2 separate regions of the Homo sapiens genome follow, and region 1 is linked to region 2. A link means that fine-mapping ties the variant in region 2 to the expression of a gene that starts in the linked region. Tissue or cell type: whole blood. Region 2 holds a variant in brackets; the other region holds the start of a gene. All regions are shown on one strand. Distances are from middle to middle.

Region 1 (8,166 bases), 29 kb before region 2:
TATTCTTAAATGTACAACAGCTCCAAGACGACACTTAATTCCAACTATAGGTGGCAAAAGATATTATAGGAGGGAATAGAGAGGTTTAAATACGGATGAAATAAAGGGTCACCGTCTCCTTAGGCACAAGGAACAGCTTATTTTTTGCCAGATTTCTTAATTCCACCTGTGGCCAGAGGCCCCTTCCCCACGACCTTCGCTTTTAGCACCTCGAGTTTCTTCTGCTCCTCTTTTTGTTTCTGCTTGAAAGCCTTCTCTTCCTCGTCCATCTCCTTGGCCTGCTTCTTGGGCTGTTTCAGTGCCTTCTTCTTGCCACCTTCGTGGCTGGACATGGCGCCTGCCGCCCCTTCCCCAGACCCTGCCACTGGACGATAACTTCTTTTAGATCAGCACCTTTTGTTGCCAGTCTGGACTCACAAGTGATGGGACACATTCGAACCAGGGCTAGAGAAAATGGATTTTATCCATCTAGGAAGGGTGGGCTGAGCCTTTACCATTAGATCCAGTTTTACTTCATTGCCAAGTCATTCTCTTTTGGATGTAAAGTTTATTTTTCAAACAGACATACATTTATATCTAAAAATAAACTGGCACTAGTGATGCCAATTGCCTGATGTAAAAGAAAGGTCAAGAATTTTAAAGGGTCTCGGAGAGTAAAGATACCTCTGAGAGTAAGTGGAGGTTTCTTTTTGAGTCAGAGTCTCGCTCTGTCGCCCAGGCTGGAGTGCAGTGGCGTGATCTCTGCTCACTGCAAGCACCACCTCCCAGGTTCATGCCATTCTCCTGCCTCAGCCTCCCAAGTAGCTGGGACTACAGGCGCCCGCCACCACGCCCGGCTAAGTTTTGTATTTTTAGTAGAGACGGGGTTTCATCGTGTTAGACAGGATGGTCTCGATCTCCTGACCTCATGATCCGCCCACCTCAGCCTCCCAAAGTGCTGGGATTACAGGCGTGAGCCACTGCGCCTGACCATGGAGGTTTCTTAGGGATGGATTTAGGGACCTGTGTTAAGAAGGAGATGGAAATTCTGACCCTCAATCTCATCTTATGTGCTGGGATTTGCTCATAGCTGGGTGAAGCCACAGGTTGTACAAGTGGCCTCTTGCTTGACTGATTTCGGGTGGTAATCAACATATTGCAATCACTTTGTGGTCTTCCCCTTGGTTTTGGCCACCAACAGATACTTTCTTCATTCTAAGACAACATGGATCAACTCAAAGTCATTATCCTTCACATCCAGGTGAGGAGGAGAAAATATTCTTGTGATATTATAATTTTTCATCCACCACCTCAAAGAACTCAGAGTGTGAAACATTGACCCTTTTACTCTCATAAGCTGTAAGGATGGGTGTGAGGGTTGCAGCTGGTTATCTGGGTCTACAAGGAGAGGATGGCCTGACCATTGTCTCAAGCCTGAAGAGGAACAAAGGAAAGGATGCGACTCAGGGCGCTGGACTCCAAAATCTGGTGTTTCAGGCCCTTAACAAATGCTGAGTGATAGAACTACAATTAGCTCTTAATTATCTGTGCCCATGACAGATGTAAAAATAATTAATAATGATTTTGCTTTGGAAAATATTATACTACATTTCTGCAAAGACGTGATAAGGATTACGGTAATTGTCACCATAACTAGAAGCTTCATCGCCTGAATATCAGGGGAAGACTTCGGTAGAAGTCAAGGCCTACTGTTTTGTAGAACTCACTTTAATTAAGGAAATATAAACCATAGTTCTGGGTCCGGGCACAGTGGGTCGCGCCTGTAATCCTAGCACTTTGGGAGGCTGAGGCGGGTGGATTACATGAGGCCAGGAGTTCAAGACCAGCCTGGCCAACATGACGAAACCCCGTCTCTACTGAAAAAAACCACACACACACAAATTAGCCAGGCGTGGTGGTGCGAACCCATGGTCCCAGCTACTCAGGAGGCCAAGGCACGAGAATTGCTTTGAACCTGGGAGGCGGAGGTTGCAGGGAGCCGAGATTGCGCCACTGCACTCCAGCCTGGGCGACAGAGCGAGAGTCTGTCTCAAAAAACCAACGAAACCACAAAAACCATAGTTTCTAGCTGAAAAAGCCAGAGTCATCTTCATGCAAACCAAAGGCCCAAGAGATACCCCTCAGTCTAACAAATTACTTGGTCAAGTTTATGATGGGGTAAAGAGGGGAGGCTTAAGAAATAGATTTGACTTGTAATATATATACACGCATGTTAAATATATGTATAATTGTTTTTTCTAATAATATATGTATATAATATATGTAAATAATTTTTTTCTCTTGAGACAGGGTCTTGCTCTGTCACCCAGGCTAGAGTGCAGTGGTGCGATCGATCTTGGCTCACTGCAACCTCAACCGCCCAGCTCCAACAATCCTTTAACTTCAGCCTCCCAAGTAGTTGGGACCACAGGCATGCGCCACTGCACTGGGTTAATTTTTTATTTTTAGTAGAGATGAGGTCTCACTAGTTGCCCCGGCTGGTCTCCAACTCCTTGGCTTAAAGCATTCCTCCCAACTCAGCCTCCCAAAGTGCTGGGATTAGAGGCATGAGCCACGGCGCCCGACCCTGACTTGTAATATATGTTAATGGAGCGAAATTTCATTAATTAAGACCTAACAAGATTAGAATTTGTGATACATCAATATTGGCCTGAACTAAAGTTAACCATTCTCCAAGCTATGAAAATAAAGTTTTTACTGAAGAAAAGAGTTTAAGCAAGATTGCAAGGGCAATGCTAAAGAGACCACTTTAAAGGTATGTATGCATACAAATTGTTGACCTGTTATTTTTAAGTCCTTCCTACCTATCCTTTCAAATATCCATTCTTTCTAAACAGCAAAGTGGCCACAGTTTATTACTTGAGATTGGATTTCTGTCCTTAAAACAAAGCTTTATGCCTTTCAAAATATATTGAATAAACCAGATCGGTATTTCCTGCCAATAACTTGACAGTAAGGTTTTGCTGTACTTCTCCTGATCTGCTAACAGCATTATATTCTTGCAGTTTCACATGTGGTGAAGTCTGATACGTGACTTGCGATCCTCAACATGCTGACCACACACAGTGTGTTCCGAACTGGGCTTCTGAGTTTGGGGCTGTGTAATGTCTACGCGTGGACTGAGTCACTTCCTATGGGTTGCTGCACCTTAGTGAGATTTCGCTGTTACAGTCCTCCCCCACTCCTGGCCCTCTGTTCTGTGGTTTTCGGTCTTGCTGTACTGTACTGTGTTGAAGTAGCCTTTCTTTTTGTTCAGCTGCCTACAACTATACATGTATTTGTTGGGGCTCAGAAAACGACACCCCTTGGCATGCTGAGTGCTTCGAACCAAAGGAGATGGGAAGGTTTCAGAAGCAGCCTTGGAAGCAAAGTCTTCCTTTGGCCTTCTCCTGCCCTCCTGTCTCCCGCTCCTCTTTCTCCCCCTGAGTGAGTCATAGAAATTAGAATTCCTCTTCCCCACAGTGGGTCAGAGAGACTAGAAGGGTCACTATGGGGGAGGCCAAGGCAGGAGGATTACTCGAGGCCAGGAGTTTGAGATCAGCCCAGGCAACACAGTAAGACCTAGTCTCTACAAAGAAATAAGTTAAAAAAATATTAGCCAGGTGTGGTGGTGTGCACCTGTATCCCCAGCTACTTGAGAGGCTGAGGTGGGAAGATGGCTTGAGCCTGGGACACAGAGGCTGTGGTGAGCAATGATTGCGTCACTGCACTCCAGCCTGGGCAACAGCTGTCTCCAAAAAAAAAAAAAAAAAAGAAGACTTGGGACAGGCCTTGTTCAGTTTCCTACCTCAGTCTGTTACCTTAGATCAAACCCCCTTTGTCCAATCCCATTTCTACAGGGCTGTCTGTCCTTTGACAAACCTAAGCATAAAAATAGACGGCTTTCCCTGGGTCTTGGGTCTTCATTTCTGAAGGCTTCTGTGTCACACAAGTCTTTGATTAAATAAATGTGTCCACTCTCCTCTTGTTAACCTGTCTTGTAGGAGTGTCAGCTGTGACTCCTCTGATGGGCAAAGAAAGGTGCCACAACTTTTCCGCCCCTGTATATCCTACAGCAGTGACTTGAGATTTCTATTTTTCTCTGACTCTTCTTCAGATATGCATCAATCATAAAAGAAAAGGTTAAGATTTAAACCCCCAGATGGATCTGGACAAGTGGGAGTTCTCCTCCTCCTATCCCTCCTTCCTTCCACAAATACTCACTGAGTGTCTCTCTTTTATGCAAGACACTGTTAAAGGCATAAAGATGAAGTAGAGGAAAATCCTGCCCTTCCAGAAGCACCTGGGCTAGAAGGGGAGGCAGATGGGCGTAGAAATAATTTCAAACACACACCAGTGTTCTAAAGAGTGGTGTGTGCATGTTTTGGGAAGGCACTGGGAGCAGCAGGTTGTGAAGCTGCTGCCATGCTTGGCCCCTAGGCCACCATGCTTCTGACCATTGGGTCATATTCCAGAGGTCCCTTCATGGCTTCAGCATTCTGTGAGGTTAACAGGCCGAGAAGGGCCAAGGCAGTGTCAGGAATGGTCAGTACCTGACAGAGATGGAGAAGTCCCCTGGGGAGCTCTGGCTGGCCCGGATGATGAAGAAGCCAACCTCCTTGCCCATGAGTAAGTTCTCTGCCTGGTGTCGAGAGAGGCCTTCGTGAAACCATCTGTGGGGGCGAGATCAAACAAAAGGATCAGGATGAGACACAGGAGTGACAAGAGGGAGACGTGGAGAAGAGGTGACCCAGAGGGAAAGAGGCTGGGGACTCTGTACAGTAGGGAGCAGAGAGAGACCAGGTGCTGTTTGAAATCAAACCAGTGCTCCAGGCAGCTTTCAGGAAAGGCGAGGGAGCATTCCCCTTGATTCACCCTCTTTGTTCCTTCTCTCCAGGAGAAGTCTCTCTCCAGCCTGGGAAACGAATCATGGAAATGTGTCGCTGCACCAAAATGGGGCAGTGTGGGAGTGACTCACTGCAGGAAGCAGCCGCCTGCCGGCAGCTGCGGAAGAGATAGACCAGAGCTGCGAGGACAGAGGATGCACTGGGGAGGGAAGGGAAGGCTTCAGGCACTGGAGCCAACCAGGTGCAGCCGGCTGAGCAGGGCCTGGGGTGCTCATGCCTGCCCTGAGGTCTCAGTGGCCTAGAGGTTCCTCCCTGGGTATTAAAGGAAAGTTACAGCCCAGGGCGTCACGTTACCTAGGCTGGCATGGAGCACAAGGGGGCTTTGCTCAGTGTGCCTAGCAGAGGCTGCAGTGTTCCTAGGGAGTCCAGTGTACATGCTTGGAAATCAGCGAGGCTGGCAGCCGCCAGAGAGCGGCGTCTATACAACCAGATCCTGGGCCTGCCCCAAAAATCCAGGCTGGGAAATAATCTTTACTGTGGAAAAGAAGAAACAGGAGAAATTACTCTTTTAGCAGAATGGTCAGGGTGGCAGCCCCTGGAGGTACAGCTGCATACAGCGTGGCATGTATGAAATAGGTCAAACACTTACACAGGGCCAGGCAAGCTGTGGCTGCAGCCTCAAAGCAGGAGGCCAGAGACCTCTCTCCACCACAGACAAGCAAAATGAGTGTCTGCAATCACTCAGCGGCCAAAGGTGGGACTGTGTCACATTGCTTCAAGGTGGCTGCTCTAATTGCTGTCACCAGAAGGCTCATACGCATGTTCCTTTAAGATAAAAGCCCGTCAGGCCTTGGCTTTGGATTCCTTTGTGAGCAATTCTCTGTGCTTTCTAGAATTTGGGAAACTGAGACATAGGTAGCAGGAAGGATGTACTTACTGGAGACTGAGTCCCCCACTGGGACTGAGGGGGAAGTTTGGCTGTGCTCTGAGAGGGCTGAAAGCAGCAGTTTCTGGTGGCCTGGAGATTCTGCCTGAGTATTTGCCACACAATTCTACAGGGCTAAACAAGAGGCCACCACACACACCACTGCCACGTGTGGGAAATGTAATGGGGATGGGAAGAGGAATGGAGTATGCACCACAGCAGCCATATCGCAAAGGAAACATTTCAGAAGTGAAGGGGATTTAGGAAATACACATTTGTCCTCTGACTGCAATCTGATAGGGGGCTTCTTTAAAGATTTGTAAAAATCACCACACATTGCATATTAGACATGAGTGGTCATGGTTTCAATAATACATATTCGTTCGTTCATTCATTCATTCATTCATTCAACAGCTTTACTGAACATCTAGTACTGTGCTGGGCCCCTCCTGGGCACTGGGGACACAGTAGTGGGCAGAACAGACACACACCCCTGCCCTCAGGGAGCTTACATTCTAGTCGAGGGGGACACACACAAAAGAACAAAATAATTAAGATCTGAAGCGTGCCAGATGATGGTAAGTGCTGTGGAGAACATGAAAACTGAGAGGAGAGATGGGGCGCTGTGGGTGGGAGATTAATGTAAGGTATGGTGATGAGAAAGACCTCACTGAAAAGGAGACATTCTAAACCTATAGGGGACTGGGGAGTGGGAGGAACCAACACAAGAGACTGAGGAGGAGAAGCCAGGGCAGTGGGAGGACAACCGGAGGAAGGACGTCCTGGAGCCAAAATGAAAGAGGTGTTCCAGTGGGAGGGGGGATCCCCAGGGCAGGTCATGCTGAGATGACCCCTGGGAGCTACAGCCCATGGGGAGCCTGGTGGGAAGGGTCGGGAGATGAGGAGTTGGAAGTAGCAAATGCACACACTCCTTTTGAAGAGATGGAGTGGCAAGTGGAAGGGGATTTGGGATTAAGAATTTTCTTGATTTATTTATTTATTTAAATTTTTTTTTTCTTTGAAACAGAGTCTCTCTCTGCTGCCCAGGCTGGAGTGCAGTGATATAATCATGGTCCACCACAGCCTTGAACTCCCAGGCTCAAGCGATCCTCCTGCCTCAGCCTCCCAAGCAGCTGGGACTATAGGCGCATGCCACCACGACCAGCTAATTTTTAAAAATTTTTTGTAGAGATGGGGCTCGCTATGTTGCCCAGGCTGGTCTCAAACTCCTAGCCACAAGTGATCCTCCTCCCTCAGCCTCTCAAAGGACTGGGATTACAGGCATCAGCCACAACAAAACCCACCTGGCCTCTGGGTTTGGTTTTGTTTGTTTGTGTTTTGGTAAGTTGGGAGAAATTGCAGCGTGTGTGTTTGCTGACAGGAATGATCCAGCAGAGAGGGAAAGGAGGTTGACGTGGAAGAGAGAGAGAGGAGAATTTCTGCTAGAAGCAGTGACAGTTCCTTCCAGCCAGCTGCAGGAAAGGCCGACTGTTTGAGCACACTTGCAGGAGGCAGGTGGATGCGGTGGGGGAGGGGGGTCTGGGAGCTTCACTTCTGGTGGCTTTCATTGTTCCAGAGAACCTGGAATCAAGGTCACGGGCTAAGAGTGATGCACGGAGGGGCTGAAGGTTTGAGGAGCACGTGGGGTATGCAGAGGTCACCTAGCAGATTCCTGGGCAGCATCAAGGGTTCCGTCAAGGTCAGTGGTCATTCTCTTGGTTTGGTGGTCAGTTCAGGTTTACCAAGACTGGTGCTCTTGCACCTTGCTGGAGTCACCAATACTACTGTGGTTTTCTAACAAGCTTTTGCTCTTTGAGCTAGACCCTGGTTCTGAGGCAAGATTAGATTTCTATCTAACCCTTGTGGTCAATTCTTGAGACAAACGAAGCCCAATCTCAATTTTTCATTTCCTCTTTAGGAAGAGAATTTCCCCTTCCCCCCGCTGACTTCTCTCATTGGGGTGAGCATGCTTTACTGAAGGCAGGGAGTGTCTGTCCACCCACTGAGTGAAGGGTGAGAGCCTGGTGAGGATGGTTAGGATTAGGAGGTCACAGAGAAGCGCTTAGGAGAGCAGCTCCCGAAGTGGGGTGGCCAATAGCGTCCCCTTTGGAATTCTGGGGAACGCCGTGATTGAAATCACTATAGATAATTTGAGTTTACAAACTCATTTTATAAAAACTTAAAATAGGCCGGGTGCAGTGGCTCACACCTGTAATCCCAGCACTTTGGGAGGCCGAGGCGGGTGGATCACCTGAGGTCAAGAGTTTGAGACCAGCCTGTCCATCATGGTGAAACCCCATCTCTACTAAAAATACAAAAGTTAGCTGGGTGTGGTGGCATGCACCTGTAATCCCAGCTACTAGGGAGGCTGAGGCAGGAGAATTGCAATGAGCCGAGATCATGCCACTGCACTCC
Region 2 (8,166 bases):
GAGTTTGGTTCAACACCTCTTGTATTTGTCTTGTTTAAAATAGTTCTCTTTCTTTTTACTTGCCAGTTTTGATTAAATAGTGCCCCTATCCTAGATTCTCAAAGTTGGAAGTGGCCCAGAAAGTCAGTCTTTTTCCCTAATTCATTGAGATGATAGACAATGGGCATCGGGGACGGCTGGGATTGGAGTGAGCTGACAGCTTGGTGAATTGTTTACGTTGAATCAAAAGCTCTTTCATCTGAATTCTGTGCTAAGAACCACAACAAGAAAGAAAAAGAAAGAATGAAAGAAAGAATGAACGAACAAAAGAAACAGAAAATGAGAATCACAAATCCCAAATTCCCATTTCTAAGCTGAAATAACCCCAGAGTCCTTGACCACCCTTCATGTGACAAGGTTCCAACTCTTGATCTCCTGGTCATTTTCCTCAGGTCTCCTGTCAGTTATTCAATATTTTTCTCAAAATACAAAATACATTATCTAGACTTGAACCCAGTATTCAAGATATGGTCTGAGCTGGGCTGAGTAGAATAGGATGATTTAATCACTTCATTTGTACATGAAGATTTTGTAATTGTGTTACACTGTTGGCTGGTTTTTTGTTTTCTTTTGTTTTTTTTTAGATAGGGTCTTGTTCTGTTGCCCAGGCTGGAGTGCAGTGGCGTGATCATGGGTCACTGTAGCCTTGACCTCCGGGGCTTTAGGCATCCTCCTGCCTCAGCTTCCCGAGTAGCTGGGGCTACAATCGTGTGCCCCCACACCCCGCTGCTGTTTGGGAATTAAGCAACAATAACTACAACAAAAGCCCGGGTGCTTCCCAACATGAAGATGGTCAAGCTGGACCTCTCCACCTCTGCAACGGGTTTCTTGAAACCAAAATGCAGGGCTTCACATTTAACCTTTCTGACTTTCACTGTGTTTTTGTTCTCCCCCTTTGGCCAATTTCTCAGCCTATCACAATTCATTCGGGCATGGATTTGTACTCCTAACCCTCTGGTTATATCTTTCAACTCTTCTTTCATAAGTGAACTTCATGCCTTTTTGGTTTTTGTTTTATAATAAATGGAAAATGGACTTTTGAATCAGGTAGGGCTGGGTTCAAATCCTGGCTCCTTCATTCATGCAAGTTGGTTATCTTTGAACTCAGTTTCTTTACCTAAAGACCTCCTCCAGGTTGTCATTGACCACCCTTTAATCAACACTCTGAGTATCAACTTGAAACCTACCCAGTTAAGTAGTTATCCTTCAGCCTATCTGTCCTCATTCTGCTCTGTAGGGTGTCATGCAAAGCCTGGCTGAAATCAAGCTGTGCCGTGCCTGTGGCCCTTTTCTTATATGTCACTCTAATAACCCCACAGGAAAAAGAAAGAAACCGTAACAGGGTCAACTCTTCCTTCAGGGCCATATTTGGGGAGATGCCAAGTGGAAGAAACTCATCTTTTCACTTACTGTCCCTCTTCGGCAATTGCTTTTCCGCTTTCCTCGACCTCTTTTGCAAGCCATAGACTTTCCTTTTGTGAGGCAGCTGTCACCTTAGCTACTGTGTTCCTGTTCCTCCTCCACCCTATTCTCCTTGCTTGACAGAGCAAAGGCCCCTGTGTGTTGAAGCTTTTGACACACAACTTTCTTTCTTTTCTTTTTTTTTTTTTCGAGACAGGGTCTCGCTCTGTTGCTCAGGTTGGAGTGCAGTGGCGCAATCTTGGCTCACTGAAACATTCGCCTCCCAGGCTCAAGAGATTCTCCTGCCTCAGCCTCCTGAGGAGCTGGGATTACAGGTGCCCGCCACCACGCCTGGCTAATTTTTGTATTTTTACTAGAGATGGAGTTTCACCATGTTGGCCAGGCTCATCTTGAATTCCTGACCTCTAATGATCCACCTGCCTTGGCCTCCGAAAGTGCTGGAATTACAGACGTGAGCCACCATACCCGGCCTTGACACACAACTTTCTGAGGGTCATTTTTTCCATTTAGAATTTGTTAATGTCATGTTTGTCACATGACCTCCCAGATCCACTCAAGTCTCTCTTGTCATTTCAGGCCTTCAACAATCTTTCCCCATCCTGTCTGTCAAAATTAACTTTAGAAAATCACCTGCACCATGCAAACATGCTTTAGTAAATAGCTTCCCTTTGTTCTCTAAGCACTCCATCGACATCCTTGTCTCTGCACTGGTCTTCCTTCTCCCATCAAACTCACATTGCTATGTATGGTTGTGCAGGTTGCTCACTGCATAAAGGCCTCAGGCTGAGGTTGCAGTAAGGGCTGAAATGCATCCAGTGCGCTTCTCATCAAGCTGTGAGTCCCAGTATGGGGCTGCATCTGTTTAGAACTAGCACATTCTTCTTACTTAAACAAAGGCACCGGGTCTAATTTCAACTGCTCCTTTAAAGCTTTACTCAGGGCCTGCCCCCCTCATACCCCATGGTCTCACTTTCTCTTATTCTTCCAGGGGACTTGAAGTTATCTACCCCTTGCTCAGTGCTGCCGCCATCTGGGTAAGGTAGGCAAGCACATGAGCCTTGGAGTCAGGCTGCCAGCATTCAAACCCTTCTCTACTACTAGTTTTCTGAGTGACCCTTAGCAAGTTATTTAACATCTCTGAGCCTCAGTTTCCTCATTTTAAAAACAGGGATGATAATAGTGCCTGCCTCATAATGTTCTTGGGAAGAATATGTGGAATATCCATCTAATCCACTTAGTATGGTGTCTGGCACATAGTAGGCACTCAATAATTCAATAGTTGTTAGCTATTGCTACTTTTTTTTTTTTTTTTTGAGACAGGTATCATTCTGTGGCCCAGGCTGGAGTGCAGTGAGGCAATCAGGGCTCACTGCAGCCTCCAACTCCCAGGTTCAAGTGATTCTCCTGTCTCAGCCTCCCAAATAGCTGGGACTACAGGTGCATGCCACCACATCCAGCTTTTTTTTTTTTTTTTTTTTTTTGTAGAGACAGGGGTCTCCCTATGTTGCTCAGGCTGATCTTGAACTCCTGGCCTCAAGTGATCCTCCTGCCTCAGCCTCCCAAAGTGCTGGGATTAAAGGCATGAGCCACTGTGCCCAGCCAGCTATTGTCACTTTTATGCATAGTCCTTAATAGCTAACAACTATTAAGACATGTTGTGGCTCGCAGGAAGTATGAATAAGAAAATGTACACCTCACCAAGTAGGGTTGTCAGATAAAATACAGAATGCCCAGCTAAAGTTAATTTTCAGATAAGCAACCAATAGTTGTTTTAGTATATGTATATCCCAAATCTTTACTTTCTCCACAGAAATCTCAAAGTGGTGGACTGAAGCATTGTTAAGAAGAATAGCAAGGACTCGTTTGATCTTTTCACCCTTTCATCTCGAATTTCCCTGCTGCCCCTCACCTCATGCAACGCCTGTCCCACAAGATTTCTTACATGAAAACCGGGGAGTGGGCTAGCCTTTGGGATAAGCAGTATGAAGGTTCTAGAATGAAGCCTTTAGATGTTCTAGTGAAGGTTGTGGTTTGGAATAGAAGTATATAATCTCACTCATATATCCTGTGAGCCACAAAATGTTGTACCTTCTGTTTTCTCTACCTTTCTTGTGTTATTTGCTGCTTTTAATATTGTGTGGGTCAAAAGGCATGCTTTTACCATTATATATTATGGAATACTGTGTGTTTTGATAAATAAGTTTTATATATTGGAATTTCTGTTCTTATAAGGGAATTTTTCTTGAAGTCCGTATTTGTGGTAAAGCAGAAATCTTCTAAACTCTCTTACATATTCAGACATTTCTCTTGTGATTACTCTGGCATTTTACATTGTTACTCTCAAATTCGCCATCTACTTTCTCATGCCTATAACTCGTCAAATTTTTCCATGCTTGGCATCTGCACCACAGCAAAAAATTTCCTGGGCACCAGCCCCAGTAAATTATTACTAGTCCCATCGTGTAGTCATCAGGTTGACATTTACTTGTACCACCCATGTATCTAGTCCTGATGACAAATAATCCTTGAATTGGCTTATAATACCCCATCCTTTCTTTATATGATTTGCACCATCCTAGAACCTTGTCTCTTCCTGGAACCATTTCAGAGGAAGTTACAAAACCACCAACAGTACCAAATGTGGTTCTGTTGTTTGAATGATCTTCTCTCTTTAATAGCCTTTCATTTCAAGTCCTCCATTACTGACTCCTTGCACAGATTCTTCTCTCTCCTTCCTCTCTCTGTACTTCCAGGAATTGGTGATTTCTATCCAGGTTCGTTTTCAGATTTTCTGCTGCTTAACTTCACAAGGCTGTCTTG[C/T]CCACCTTCTCTCTCTCAGGAGTATCCATATGCTTTGTGTATTCGTTCAACAAACATTTCCTGTGCCCCACTCTGTGTCAAGCCCTGTGTAGAGCATGAAGATCCAGTGTGGACTAGACAGCCCATCTTAAGACCTCAGACAGTTCAGTCTTGTAGGAAAAACAAGTCAGCCAAACCAGTGAGATCAGCATGATAAAGGAACCACACCTCAAGTGGTTCAGGAACCCAAAGGGCAGGCTCCTAATCTAGCCTAGGACGGAGACAGGTGCAGGAGGGATTAGTGGAAGCTTCCCAAATGAGGTGACAATTGAACTGAGTCTTGCAGACAAGTAGCTAGGCAGAGTAGAGAGCTCATATATGACACACAGAGAGAATGGTGTGTGCAAATAGGAGTTGGGGACCCAACTGGTTCAATCATGGACTGGCAGGAGATGGGATCAGTGATTGGACTGGGGGCAGATCATGGAGGACATTGAAAGCATGCCAGGGACTTAGGACTTCATACCAAGGATGATGGGAAGTCATTGGACATTTGAAAACATTTGCATTCAGGAATGTTTAATCAGATGGCAGTATGAAGGAATGGAGGGCAGGGTGAACCGAAGATGGAGAAAGCATCGCAGTAGTCTTGGCTAGTAATGATGAGGGCCTGAACTACAACAGTGACAGATCATGCTCTTTCTTTTGACACTGGGTCTTTCCACATGTTTTTATCTCCATAGTAAGTACTTTACACATTATCTCATTTAAAGCATGCAAGAATCTCAAAATAAGAACTGCTATTGTATCCAGCTGACAGATGAGGAAAGTGAAGCTCAAAGGGGTTAAATAATCACCCAAGTTCATATGTATCAAAAAATGGTGGAGCCAGGATTCAAACTCAGCCTGTGCACTTAAACAGTATTCTCCCTTGTCTTAACTCAAGGGAATCACTGTGAATTATGACCAGTTGGAAGGGGGCTAAAAGACAGAAAAGAGTCTAGAATGGTGTTATCCAATAGAAATAGAATGCAAGTCACAAATGCCAGCCATTATGCCATTTTAAATATTTTGGTGGCACTTTAAAAAGTAAAAGAAAATTATTTTTAATAACTTATTTAACCCAATATGTCCAAAATATTATCATTTCAATTTGAAATCAATATAAAATATTATTGAGATACTTTGCATTATTTTTTCCAAACTAAGTCTTTGAAATCTGGTGTGTATTTTACACTTACAGCACATTTCAATTTGGACAAGCCACATTGAAGTACTTGGGACAGCATAGGTCTAGAACGACTCTTGAGTTCCTGCTGGGGGCATTAGGGTAGATGTTGGTAGCATTTTCTGAGATAAGGGAATACAGAAAGAGGAGATAATTAAAGGGGTGTTTGAAATGCTTGTGAATGATCTATGTAGAGACTCCCAGTCAAGGATTGGCTATGCAGGTATAGAACTCAATAAAAAAGTCTGGGTAGAGCTATTAATTTGGGTGCTATTCCAATATAGATGATTGTGAAAACCCTGAGTAAGAAGGAATTCACCTAGAGAGATTATGTAGCAGGACTGAACCTTTGGAGACAGCAGGGAGGGATGGGACACCTTGGTCATGCGGAGGAGTTCATTTGTTCAGCAGGAGACGCATCTCCCCTTTGAATGGGAAAGAAGGAGGACAAAGATGCAGAAGGTAAGTTTGTATAGGTAAGGAGGGTGAGGAGAGGCAGGAAGTAGGTGGCTTTCTAATATAATGTTGGCAGGGATTCTCAGCTCATTCTATTATCTTTCTTCTCTTCCACAGAAAAGGGAATGCTAGCTTTTAACCATGACTATTCACAAAATCTATACAAAGAGGCAAACAAAATGTAAATATTTGTCCAGCCAGGGACATAAGCCAAGATGAACACTCCTTTTTCATGTCACTCCACTCATTCCCTCCTCTCTCTCTCTCTTTCTCTCTTTCCCTCTGTCTCTCAGGAAATTGCAAAAATAGTACAGAGGTCCCCTGTACTCTTCACCCCACTTCCCCTAATGGGGACATCTTACATCACCATAGTACAGTATCAAAGCTAGGAAACTGATATTGCTACAATACCATTAAAAAGACTTCCATCTTCTCTTTTACAACTTCCTAGCAGGAAGTATCCTTAGTAAAAAACATAAAAATCTGTGAGATGTAATGTTCAACCAGGCCAAGAGCTTTATGTGTGTTCAGGAGGTTTTATCTCTGTAACTAAATGACATGCATCAAATACCACACCAAATGCCACCTAAATGCTCAGGTAAAAATTACCTTCTTATGACCATATATAATTTGCACCAACGTTATGTGGTTAGACCAGGCTCTTCACTGTCTGTTTGGCTTTATCTCATTATGGAGAAGAGCAAAGATGAACAGACAGCTCTGTTGTTCCCATCAGCATCTATAATGAGGAATGTGTGACTCAAAAGAGAGCAGCAACGTGCCCAAGCCTGCACTACTGTACAAACCAGGTCTTGCTAACTTTAGAACTCATGTTCGGTTTATGACATCGCACTATCTCTTGGTAAATGGCTACTTCATACCCCTGTCTACACAGCAGGAAAACCAATGGATTAGGAGGGAGTTAGTATTCAGATGGGTGACTCCAATTCAACTTTCAAGTGGGGAGGAACCCATAGCACCCAACACAGTAGGCTCCTCCATAAATGCCAGGGATTTAATCAATTCAGCTTACTAAACAAACAGACTCAAATAAGTTGGGCACGTTCCTTAAAAGCAGAATCAAGCAAAGAAAGCTCTGAGAAATCTCTGTGCTTCAAGGAGACAAAAGCCAACGAGAGAATATTAAGCCAACTTGAAGGGAATAGTGGCTATCCATCTGCCTCTGCCATGGTTCAACCAAGGTGAATAACCCATTTATTAGCAAAGAATGAGAGAAGTCCCAGTATTTTCATGTAAGTGGTAATTTGTTAATGGGTAAACATGGAATGAATTTCTTTCTCCCTTGGAGATAAATGAGCTCTGGTTCTCAAAAAACAATATTTCTGGCAAGAGATAGAAGACAAAAAAAAAGAGGTGTTTCATCCATTAAGATTTGGAAAGCAAAGGAAATAAGTGTATTTCTGGAATCTGGGTGAAAGGAGTTTGGCCTCGACAATTTCTGAGCAGCCGAAGGAGGAAAATGGTCGCAGAAAGAGGCAGGAACATGGGTGGTCAGATGCCTTTAGGGACAGTGATCTCTCTAATGACATTTCTCCCATCTGGGCTCCCTATTTATTTGTGGACCTGCACCTTCCTACTTACATCTCCACTTGTGGTATCCATAGTACCAGTAAGAAAATAGTTTTTGTCAAATCCAGGAAGGCAGGCCTGAGAGCAATTTGCAGCTGTGAAGACAAACTATAGGATGAAGGAGACAGAAGGACAGGGTCCCCTTACCCTGTTGTAGCCATTGGGAAGGGGCCTCAGCCCTCAAGTGGTGAGACAGGGCAGCACACGGGGGATGGTGGAAAAGAGCCGAAATGAACTTGGCCCCGGAAATGGCCATTATCAAGTAGTCATGGGTGAGAGGAAAAAAAAAAGTCATGCCTTAGATCGATTGGGCCTGGATGGACCAAGGTTGAAATCCAGCCATGAGATCAGTTTTGTTTACCTCTCCCGATGCGATTAGGCCATTCATATCCGATCCTGACCATTTGTTTGAGGAAGAAAAGATGCAGCCTGCATTTTGAAATCTGGGCAGATGCTTAAAAAGACCTTGCTCTCCATTCAGACAACAGGAATGCCACCAGATGTGACTTAAACATGTCTGCTTTTCAGCTGTTTAAATGTGAGCAATTCCTCCCGTCACTAGCCCACTGCAAGGGACTGTTTTTTCAGGGTCTTTCAATCCCAGGGCTGATTCACATCACAGGTATTCCCAA

The links. PIP is the estimated chance that this variant, and not a neighbour inherited with it, causes the effect. A credible set is the group of variants that fine-mapping cannot tell apart.
Region 1: it holds the start of TMA7B, and the variant in region 2 is the best candidate, but not a certain one, in a credible set for the expression of TMA7B in whole blood (TOPMed, PIP 0.76).

Annotation. Positions count from the first base shown.
Region 1 is chr22:39,956,541-39,964,706 of GRCh38, reverse strand. It overlaps TMA7B (translation machinery associated 7 homolog B), which reads right to left and starts at 4,310. Exons shown (of 2, transcript NM_001396013.1): 1 at 3,788-4,310; 2 at 1-787. The coding sequence starts at 332. The coding sequence ends at 138. GRAP2 (GRB2 related adaptor protein 2) reads right to left here. Exons shown (of 8, transcript NM_004810.4): 4 at 4,533-4,652. RefSeq lists enhancers at 5,163-5,664, 7,457-7,516.
Region 2 is chr22:39,927,325-39,935,490 of GRCh38, reverse strand. The region is part of intron 1 of GRAP2 (GRB2 related adaptor protein 2); the gene reads right to left. Among named protein-coding and RNA genes, the nearest start is that of TMA7B, 29 kb to the left of the region's middle. RefSeq lists an enhancer at 1,915-2,579. The variant C/T (reference allele first, on the strand shown) is at 4,282.